Regions from separate parts of the Homo sapiens genome. Here region 1 is linked to region 2. Evidence: fine-mapped expression QTL. A gene starts in region 2. The other region holds a variant in brackets. All regions are shown on one strand. Distances are from middle to middle.

Evidence for each region.
Region 1: its variant is fine-mapped to the expression of SYNGR2 in whole blood (TOPMed, PIP above 0.99). The same link has a PIP of 0.9 or more in T cells.

What each region holds. Positions count from the first base shown.
Region 1 is chr17:78,124,812-78,130,217 of GRCh38, forward strand. TMC6 (transmembrane channel like 6) reads right to left here and starts at 3,944. Exons shown (of 20, transcript NM_001127198.5): 1 at 3,801-3,944; 2 at 1,966-2,095; 3 at 1,713-1,837; 4 at 1,466-1,555; 5 at 915-1,073; 6 at 347-452; 7 at 78-174. The coding sequence starts at 2,021. RefSeq lists silencers at 1-227, 2,058-2,107, 2,158-2,237, 3,508-4,037 and an enhancer at 2,578-2,827. The variant C/G (reference allele first, on the strand shown) is at 2,571.
Region 2 is chr17:78,166,432-78,171,431 of GRCh38, forward strand. It overlaps SYNGR2 (synaptogyrin 2), which reads left to right and starts at 2,150. Exons shown (of 4, transcript NM_004710.7): 1 at 2,150-2,284; 2 at 4,386-4,623. The coding sequence starts at 2,186. RefSeq lists silencers at 1,813-2,422, 2,453-2,612.

The DNA.
Region 1 (5,406 bases), 41 kb before region 2:
TGAGGCCGGAGGAGGCACTGAGGCCACCCCAGCCCTGCCCAGCCGCCCCAGCCCCAGGGCAGACCAGGGGCCCATACCAGCACGCAGGCATATCTGAGCCGGCCACAGCAGGAGCAGACCCCGCCGCTGCCCGGCTGGCCCCTCCACTTCCCCCTCGGGGTCCTGCTCTTCTCTCTGGGGACAGAGGCAGCCATAGGTGCCTGGACCAATGAGGGGCCTGACTCTCTCCTTCCTGGAGACCGGCCACCCACGGGCTCAGCCCCTTCTCCCCCACCACCTAGCCCAGCTGAGGAAGTGGGTCTGGGGGCGCAGCAGCGGCGGCATGGTCAGGGTCGGGGCTGCTCACCGCAGGCTGCGTTTCTCAGCCAGGCTTAAGGGCATCCCGCGAAGCATGTGGTCCCGCTGTGCCACTGCCAGGCTCTGGAGCTCCTTCACCAGGAGGCTCTGCTTCTCTGCGAGAGGGAGAGGGAGGTCCTGCCCATCCCCAAGTGCCCCTCCCTGCAGCCCGAAGCCGGGACCCTGGTCAGGCCTGTGTGTCCCTGCGGCACCGTCCCGAGACACCTCGGTGCCCTTATTTGAGCTTCAGTCGCCAATCAGCCGTGTGTTTGCTTCAGTCAGCGACAAGCAGGAAGCTCACAGAGCACAGGGGCCTGTTTCCCACGCACGGTCCCCGACTCGGGGCCCAGGGCCACAGCCCTCCAAGCACTCCAAGGCGCTTGTGAGGTAAGACCCCCACTTCCCTGTCCCCGTGGGTCCCTGCAGAGGGACGGGGGGGCCTTCAGGCAGCCTGCTAAGGGATAGGAGAGGGGCCTCTGGCTCTGCAGCACCCCAGCCACCGCCCAGGCCAGGCTGGCCTCTTGCACCCCACCCCAGGCCGGTGTCCGCCACTGGGGCTCCAGTGCCCACTCACTCACCCTCCTCCTCCAGGGCCGTGGGGTCCAGCTCCAGGTCGTACAGGCGGAGGCTGGGCCAGGCGGAGCGGACAAAGTTCCCGAGCAGGGGCCGGCTGCTCCTGCACCGAAGCTGCACCGTGCGGTTGTAGTACTGGGAGATGATGGCACCTCGGCTGCGGCCTATGGAGGCAGCTGGGCAGGGCCGGGCCGGGCAGGGCCAGGCCTCCCTCCCCTCAGGATGGGCTCACCACAGGCCTCTGCGTCCCTCACCCCTTCCCAGGACCCAGGAAAATCCTTTCAACAAAGACTTCAGGCACCACTGCATTCCGAAAGCCTATTTTTACCCCGTGATGACTCTGGAGTCATTTTTGGAGCCCAGCGAGGGCCACATGGGGCTGTGCTGGGCCCCCAGGCAGCAGATGGGATGGGCTAGGAGCCCGCCCTGGGCCTGGCTCTGAGCTACGGGAGCAGCCACTACCCAGGGAGATGCCTGGCAGGAAGCCCAGCCCAGCCCCAGGGACTGGGGTCAACTCGGGGCCGGGGCCGAGGCCGAGGCTGAGGGTCCCACTCACCAATGGTGCGGCTGGGCATGCTGGCCAGGATGCGGAGTGTGGCCGTGCTCTGGGTGCCCTCGGGCCGCCAGAGTGTCTGCTGGCTACTTCCTACAAAGCAAGAAAGACTCACCAGGGGTCCTGGAGATGCCATTGGCCACAGTATCTCCCACCCCATCCCAGGCCTGCAGAGCTGGGAGGCCCGTCCTGAGGGGCTGGGGCACCCAAGTCTTGGTCCACACCACCCAGCATCCAGGCCTGAGCTCACCTGTCACCTCCCGCTCTCTCTGCTGCAGCTCCAGCCCCTCCTGGGCCGTGCACTGGCTCTGCTCCTGGATGAGCTGCTGGAAGGAGTCGTGCACTTCGCTTTCATCATAGGGGCTGGGGCCCTGGCTGCAGAGGGGGTTGGCGGGGGGGTCAGGCTCCAGCCACCTCTCTCCTTCCAGCAGCCCCTGCTCAGGTGACCTCTCCGTGGGGGGTGGAACATTCCAGCCTCCAGCCCCCAGCCCCAGAGCGCTTACCCCTGGTCCCCTGGGGTCTCAGGGACATCGAGGATGAAGGCCAGTGGCTGGGCCATGTCTCTGGCCAATGCCCGCTAGTCTGCAGACCTAGGGTAGCTCAGAGCCTGGGCGCCACCTCCGGAGCCCCCATCTGATGAGACAGGGGCACAGAGCCAGGGGTGGTCTTCAACGCCTGGCAGCTGTCCACACCACCCATTCCTGGGGGAACCACAGGAGGTGCCACTCACAGCCCAGACAGTCCCGCCCACCCCCCTATCACCCCAGGTACATAAATGGTGAGGCACCGAATAAGCCTCATGCCAGAATGGAATGGGGGGCCCCCTCCAGTGTCAGGGGAGGGGAGAGAGGAAGGAAGGGTGTGGGGTCTGCAGTTCCACATCTGTTTCCTCGATGTCGCCAGTCCCTGGGAAATGGGGAAGAGGTAGGGTGCCTGTAGACACAGCCCCTTTCAGGATCTCCATGCCCAGGGTTCTGGCACAGAGACACCTCCTTTTTGGAGAGAAAGGTCAGAGTAGGCTGTAGGCCTTCTCTGCGTCTGCCCTGTGACCTCAAAGAACTTCCTCTAGCAGGAAATTAGCTGCTGGAGCCCTCACCCCCAACCAGCC[C/G]CAGGCGGAAGCAGCACAGGGGGCTCCTCCCCCACACACAGAGGTCACTCCATGCCACCGCCGTCAGGGCGCCAAGGTCCTCATGTTCTCAGAAGACCCACTGCCCTGCATTCCATCATCCCAGGGCGGCCGGCTGGGGGTGGCCAGGACCTCAACAGGCCTCCTTTGTCCTGGCTCTGCCGTCACCCGGCACAACTGGAACCAGAGCAGCCTTGTCTGGGGCCCTGGGCTCGGGGCCCGTTCATCTGTGAGAGTGGAGCCAGGACTCAGCTCCCAGCCACCAGCGAGTCCTGCCGGCCTCTGCCCTGGACTCCTCCTGCGCTCACCCTCAGGAACTCAGGGCTCAAAGTCGGCCGGGTTGAAGGGCGCTTTCCTCGGACAGGCAAAGCCCGGGGGCGCCCCGACAGAGCAGCTCCTTGCAGGGGTGCCAGTCACAGGACCGGACGGCGCCCTCCCTCAGTGTCCTGGGTGCCATCTTCGGGCCCAGGCCCCACACCACCCCCTCCCTCCAGCAGGAGCAAAGACGTGGGAAAACCAGCCCAGAGCTGGGTCCGAGGCGGCCCCACCCAGCCTAACACGGGACAGCTGCCGAAAGAGGGGCTGAGGACGCCCCACCCAGTCCCTAGAGCTGGAATCCCTTCCTCCAGACAGGCCCTTCTAAGCTCAGGGAACCCGGGGACTCGGGCACCCAGCGCCCCAGCACTCCGCCCCGAGGCCCAGGCAAGTCCAGCGGAGTTTCCAGGCGCACCATTCCTGAGCTAGGTGGGGAGAGGCTGGGTGGCGCCCGTTTCCAGGAACCCCCACCCCAGCCGGCAGCGAGCTTCCCGGGAGCAGCCGCTACCCAGGGAGAACCGCAACCTGGCCCCAGAGCCCAGAGCGGCTGCAACTCTGGGGCCACCGAACCCGTCCAGCCGGCCTCCCTGTCCCCCGCCCCTTCCCATCCCGGCCACACCCCCTCCCCTCCCCTCCCCGTGCCCTGGCGCTCGGCTGGGGGACCTGGGTGGGGGCTGCGGATTTTGCTCCCCGCACTGTCCTCCCCGCCCCTGCCGCTCCCAGCTCTGTCCGAGCCGGAGGGTCAAGCCCTGGGAGCTCCAGGAGCACCCGGGGAGGGAACTCGGCTGCCAAATGGCCCCAGAGGCCGAAAGGAATTCAGGGGGGATTGCCGCTGTCCCCGCATAGGAGAAGCAGCTGGGGCTGGCGGGACCCGGGACCGGGATCGCGGCCGCTCACCTGGGAGGCGCCGGGGAGGAGGGGCCGCGCGCGCAGCCAGGGCTCACCTGTGCCCCGCAAGAGCCGCCGGGAACTGAGGTCTCGGCTCTCCTTGCCAAGGGAGTGGCAAAGGGCCCCAGGGGCGACTGGGCCAGTCGCAGGTCTGCCGGGGCCGGGGGAGTAGCCGCACCTCCCGGCCCACGTGGGCGGGGGGGGGGGGGGCGGGCCTCGGCTATCACGTGACCCGGCCCGGCCCGCGGCGCCCCCGCCCTCCTCCGGGCGCCCCGCGGCGACTATGCCTTCCTCCCCTGCCAACTTCCGACCCCTCCTCCTGAGGTCTGAGCTGGGCTGGATTCATTCCAGCCCCTGGTTGAAGTCCCCAATTTTTCTGACGCTCAGTTTCCCCAAGTTCCAAAAAGGGGCAATATTTCCAGACTCATCTGCTTCCCATGGTTAGGGATCGTCCAAGTAAGATGCCGCCGAAAGCCCCAGGGACACAGAGTATCTCACTCCAGATTGGGCAGCGCCCCCCCCCCCGCCGCCCCCGCAAGCCTCCTGCTGACTCTCCCCGACCCCGGCGGGGGGAGCCTGGTTATCTCCCACTCCTGACACCTGGGCGGGGTTCATTGTTTATCTAGCAAGAGTTCTGGCTCACTTCCTGTGTGCTGTGTGGAGAGGAGGGGATGAAAAGGAGGACACGCTGACACTTAGGTGACTGTCCCCAGGTGCTGTACCCGTTGCCCTGTTTTCTGTTATTCCCCATGAGCCAGGAAGGTATGCACTGATATTCCCATTTCACAGATGAGGAAACTGAGGCTGAGAGAAGTTAATCACCCTTTAGGGTGCCCCCAGCCAAAGCAGGAGACTTAGTGGTCCACCTGGGAACTCTATGGAGGAAACTGCCTTTGAGATTGTACCCCCCACCCCAAGCCCATTTGGAAGGGAGGGTCATTCCTGGCGGGGAGAAGCCATGAAGCAGGCAGGGTGAATGTGAGCTGGGGCCCAGGAGGGCAGGAGAGGGCACTGCTGCAGGGGAGAGCAGGCAAGCAAAAGCGAGGACCAGGCAGGGGTCAAGGCTGGGGCCTTTTGGAGCTGCCAGTGTGGTCCTCAGATGGCTACCCCAAGCTGGTTCTTGGCAAGTGGCACCCTGGCATGGAGACCCAGCCCCTGCCTCTCCTCCCACTGCTTCCCCCTCCCTGCATACCCACACTGAATTTGCATGAATGCCACCTCCTCTGGGGAGCCTCCCCAGATTGAACCCTGGTGGAGCACCTACCACTTCCTATTGACATGTACATCTGTGGTTCTGTGCCCCCTCCTACCCCAGCCCACTGTGTGCCCAGCACCAGCACATAGCTTGCGCCTGACACACAGAAAGGACTCTGGAAACCAGGAAGGAGGTGGGCAGAGAGGCAGAAAAGCTATGAACATTCAGACCTGAGATGACTGGGCCCTATAGCAGGTAGAGAGGGAGCAGAGAGGAAGGGCTGCGGGCTTCCCAGGGGCCCAAGGACAGAGAATTGGCAAAGATATGTCTTAAACATCTAGCCTGGGAGAGCATGAATGGAGCCAATTCCTGAGCACTTACTACCGGCCAGGTGCTAGGCCTGGGTCTTGGCACAACCAT
Region 2 (5,000 bases):
CCTCGCCTCTCAGGTGCTGTCACATCTCTCTGGGTGTAGGGAGAGGGAGGGGGGCACACTGCGAAAAGGCCCAGCCCCTCCCCCCCACCTGCTCCCCTCTTCCCTGGAGAGGCACCCCACCTCCTGGTGGCCCAGTCCTATGGTTCAACTCTCACGTGGTCCAGCTCACCTGGGTTGACTGTGAGCCCCACCTGGCACACCTGCTGTTGTTAATCTGCACCTGCAACTAGCAAAGGGGGGTCTGGAATTCTTCCGGGTTCAGTCAGCCTGTGATCCCACACCTCTGTCTGTACAACCTCCGCTCCCCACTCCAACACACACAGAGCCTGCCCCAGCCTACCCTGCACCAGACCCTCTGTACCGGTTTTTCTTGGGATGGAGGTAGAGAGGGACGGAGGCGAGAGGGGGCTGAACTGGAACTGGATTAAACTTTGCCATCTGCCTGTCGCCCTGAAAACTTCATTTCTGTTTGCATGCCATATATATATTTTTTTATATGTGGTCTTTTCTTTTTTTTTTTTTTTGAGATGGAGTCTCGCTCTGTCGCAATGGTGCAATCTCGGCTCACTGCAACCTCCGCCTCCCGGGTTCAAGCGATTCTCCTGCCTCAGCCTGCCAAGTAGCTGGGACTACAGGCACGCGCCACCATGCCCAGCTAATTTTTGTATTTTTAGTGGAGACGGGGTTTCACCATGTTGGCCAGGGTGTTCTCGATCTCCTGACCTCGTGATCCGCCTGCTTCAGCCTCCCAAAGTGCTGGAATTACAGGCGTGAGCCACCACGCCCGGCCGATATGTGGTCTTACTCTGTCACCCAGGCTGGGGTGCAAAGGCGTGATCTTGGTTCACTGCAAACTCCGCCTCCTGGGCTCAGACAATTCTCCCACCTCAGCCTCTGGAATAGCTGGGACTGCTAGTAGCTGCCACCACGCCTCGCTAACTTTCGTTTTTGGTTTTGTTTGTTTGTTTGTTTGTTTGTTTGTTTTGTTTGTTTTGAGATGGACTCTTGCTCTGTTGCCCAGGCTGGGGTGTAGTGGCTCGATCTCAGCACACGGCCACCTCTGCCTACCGGTTTCAAGCAATTATCCTGCCTCAGCCTCCCAAGTAGCTGGGATTACAGGCGCTTACCACAACGCCCAGCTAATTTTTTTGTTGTTGTTGTATTTTTAGTAGAGACGGGGTTTCACCATGTTGGCCAGGCTGGTCTCAAACTCCTGACCTCAGGTGATCCAACCGCCTCGGCCTCCCAAAGTGCTGGGATTACAGGTGTGAGCCACTGCGCCCGGCCTTGCACACCATCTTTTTTTTTTTTTTTTTTTTTTTTTTTGACACAGAGTTTTGCTCTTGTTGCCCAGGCTGGAGTGCAATGGCACAATCTCGGCTCACCGCAACCTCCACCTCCCAGGTTCAAGCGATTCTCCTGCCTCAGCCTCCCGAGTAGCTGGGATTACAGGCATGCACCACCACACCAGGCTAATTTTTGTATTTTTAGTAGAGACGGGGTTTCTCCATGTTGGTCAGGCTGGTCTCGAACTCCTGACCTCAGGTGATCCAACCGCCTCGGCCTCCCAAAGTGCTGGGATTACAGGTGTGAGCCACCGCTCCCGGCCTTGCACACCATCTTAAGTGTGACGCCACACTGCCCTTCACAGCCTTGGGGCTCTGCCCAGACCAGGAGGAATGGGGAGGGGGTCTTTGACCCTACCCCAGGCTTAGCCCCAGAGAGGAGGAAAGAGTGGCAGGCCAGGCAGGGAGGGGCTCCAGGGTGTGGCCTGGGTTTTTCAGTGGGATGGGGGAGGGGTTGCTTATGAGCCTGGGTGGGTTCTTGGTAGGTGGTGGGCTTCCTAGAGGAGGCGGTGGGAGGGCAGGGGCAAAGAGGGTGAGCGGTCCTCAGTTCGTCCGTCTTCCCGGGGGACTCTCTGACCCTTTCTGGTCCGTGCTGCGGCCGGCGTGGCCCGGAGACTAGCCCCTCAACCCCGAGGTGGGGTGGACCCGGGTGCTCCGCGGCCACAGCCCCTCCCCGCCTCTAGAAGCGCAGTCCCGCGGCTCGCCCGCCGCTCGCGAGGGCCGCACTTTGCCCTCGGTCCCTAGCGGCGCCTGGCCACGCCCCCGGCGGGTGGAGTCGGGCGGGGCGCCGGGCAGGTTCCTCTGCGTTCCGCGGCGGCGGCAGCGGCGGCGACGGCGACATGGAGAGCGGGGCCTACGGCGCGGCCAAGGCGGGCGGCTCCTTCGACCTGCGGCGCTTCCTGACGCAGCCGCAGGTGGTGGCGCGCGCCGTGTGCTTGGTGAGCCCGGGGAGGGCGGGCCGAGGGCACCCTGGGGACCCCCTCTCCGTCGCCAGGCCCGGCGGGGCCCCTAGCCCACGAGCGCGACAGGTGGCGGCGGCCGCGTCCGGGGCCTGGCGGCGAGCGGGGCCGGCGTCCAGCGTCCCGGGCCCCGCCTTCCCGCCCTCCACAGTCTGTCCCGCTGTCCCCTCCCGGTCCCGGGTCCCGCCACCCACCCCACCCCCAGCCTCGCGCCCCGACGCGGGGTGTCCGGATCTCCGCAGGGAGCGGGCCCCTGCCTCGCTGGCAGTGGGAGGAGTTTGGGGGCGGCTCCCGGACAGGTGGCCCGCACGCCGCGACTCCCAGATTGGGGAGTTCACCGGGACGGGGTTTTCCGAAGCCACGTGGGGTAAGGGAGGGGGCGGGGGGCGACCCAACGCCCGGAAACAGGGTGTCCTTCCCACTCGGGGCAGGCCACGGGTCCGCCTTCCCACCCGAAGTTGAGGGACCCCAAGATGTACCCCCTCCCTGTAAGGTGGGCAATACCTCCAAAACCAGGTTTTGTGTGTGTGTGTGTGTGGCGGGGAGGGGGCCTGTTCTTGGACAGCCAGCCCTGAAAGCTGGAGGGGGTGGCATGAGGGGGCAGGCAGAGGTGGGCCTGCTGTGCCCAGACCATGCCTGGGCCTGGAGCTTCTGAGGTCCTCCAGGGCGCCCACACCAGCTCCCAGCCAGGCTGTGGGATCTGATCGCCTCTGTCCTGGGCTGTGTCCAAGAATCAGGTGCCCAGTGGGTCGGGATGGCAGTGCCAGGAGTCCTGGATGGGCACCCTGCTCCCATCATCCCGGAGATCCGGCTTCATCTCCATCTGGGGGCGGGGCCTGTGACTGCCAGCTCCAGAGCCCTATGGAGAGCTCCCTGGGACAACAGGGCAGGACTGGCAGGGGAGAGTCCTGGGGCCATCCCAGAGGGATCCTGATGCTCACAGACCTGTCCCACACCTGCTGAGGTGGAGCAGGCGTGGGTGGTGGCCTTCAAGTTTAGGGAGGTGGTATGGGGCTCTTCCCAAGGGGCTGGAGCTCCCCTACATCCACCCTGGGTCCTCCAGGTGTCTGAGTTCAGAGCTGTATCCACAGGCCTGAGTTAGTCCCCTTGTAGTGCCCTGTGCATGCAGGGCCCTCTGTGGGGTGGGAGACAGACTGGGAGGGACCAGGATGCCACAGAGGCTGCAAGTCCTTGTGTGGAGACAGCTGGCCAGGCTGAACCAGGGAGGGTTCCAGGGGTTCCAGGAGGTGAAGACACAGGGGCGCCAGCATGGCCTTCCCAAGAGGGCCTGTCCACCTTCACCAAGGTGTTCAGGCAGAGGCTGGGTGCTGTAGAAGTGACTTGGGCTGAAGGTGACGGGGGATGGGTAGTCTTTGTGACTTGGCCTGTCTTGGTTAAACCTCTTTCAAGGTGAGGTTGGGCTGGGGATGGAAGGACTGCCCTTCATCCATCAGGTACCTAAGCAGAATGATTCCTGCAGCAGGCCGATGGGGCAGGAGCAGCCCCTGCCTAGGAGGTCCCTGCCCATTCCCCACCCCTCCCCGGTCCAGGATTCCCAGGGGCAGGCCCCCTGGTGCCTGCAGATTCTCATCCTGGGGTGCATCAGGAAGCACTTTGCTCATCAGCTCACCTCCACAAGTTTGGAGGGGCTAAGATGTCAGCCTCCAAAAGGGGACAGCAGGCTGGGCGAGGTGGCTCATGCCTGTAATCCCAGCACTTTGGGAGGCCGAGGAGGGTGGATCACCTGAGGTCAGGAGTTCCAGACCAGCCTGGCCAACATGGTGAAACCCTATCTCTACTAAAAATACGGGTGTGGTGGAGGGCACCTGTAATCCCAGCTACTAGGGAGGCTGAGGCAGAATTGCTTGAACCCAGGAGGCAGAGGATGCAGTGAGCCGAGATCGCACTATTGCACTCCAGCCTGGGCAACAAGAGCAAGACTCCATCTCAAACAACAACAAAAACCCAAAAGGGGACAGCAGTAGTGGGAGAGGCCAGCATCTGTACACCCCATCAGGGTCCCCGCTGTGTGTGCCCCTCAGGCGGCCACCAGCCCTACCAGGTCCTCCCCTCCCGGCAGGTCTTCGCCTTGATCGTGTTCTCCTGCATCTATGGTGAGGGCTACAGCAATGCCCACGAGTCTAAGCAGATGTACTGCGTGTTCAACCGCAACGAGGATGCCTGCCGCTATGGCAGTGCCATCGGGGTGCTGGCCTTCCTGGCCTCGGCCTTCTTCTTGGTGGTCGACGCGTATTTCCCCCAGATCAGCAACGCCACTGACCGCAAGTACCTGGTCATTGGTGACCTGCTCTTCTCAGGTATCTGCCTGTGGCACCTCCATTTGATCTTGGGGGAGGCATTAACTCTAGGGTTCCGCAGCTGGGAGGGTCTCGGCCTCTCTGGGAGGGGCAGGGAGCAGCTCACTCCTCCAGGGCATTTTTAGGAAAGGGTTTTCAGCTAGTGTTTTTCCGTGCTTGAATGGCACCAGCCCTGCCTGGGGTAGCTAGAAGCTGAGTGGACCTGCAGCACACCCGAGCAGATGGGCTTTGCCTCTGCCCCTTTTGTCCCCTAGGCTGTCTGCTGTGGCCCACCCTGCCAAGGCCCGAGTGTGGGGGACTTTGGAGGTGGCTCCCGGCCCGGCTTCCAAGTCCTCCCCTCCATAGTGTGGAGGCTCCCCCGGGAGGTCCCTGCCCTA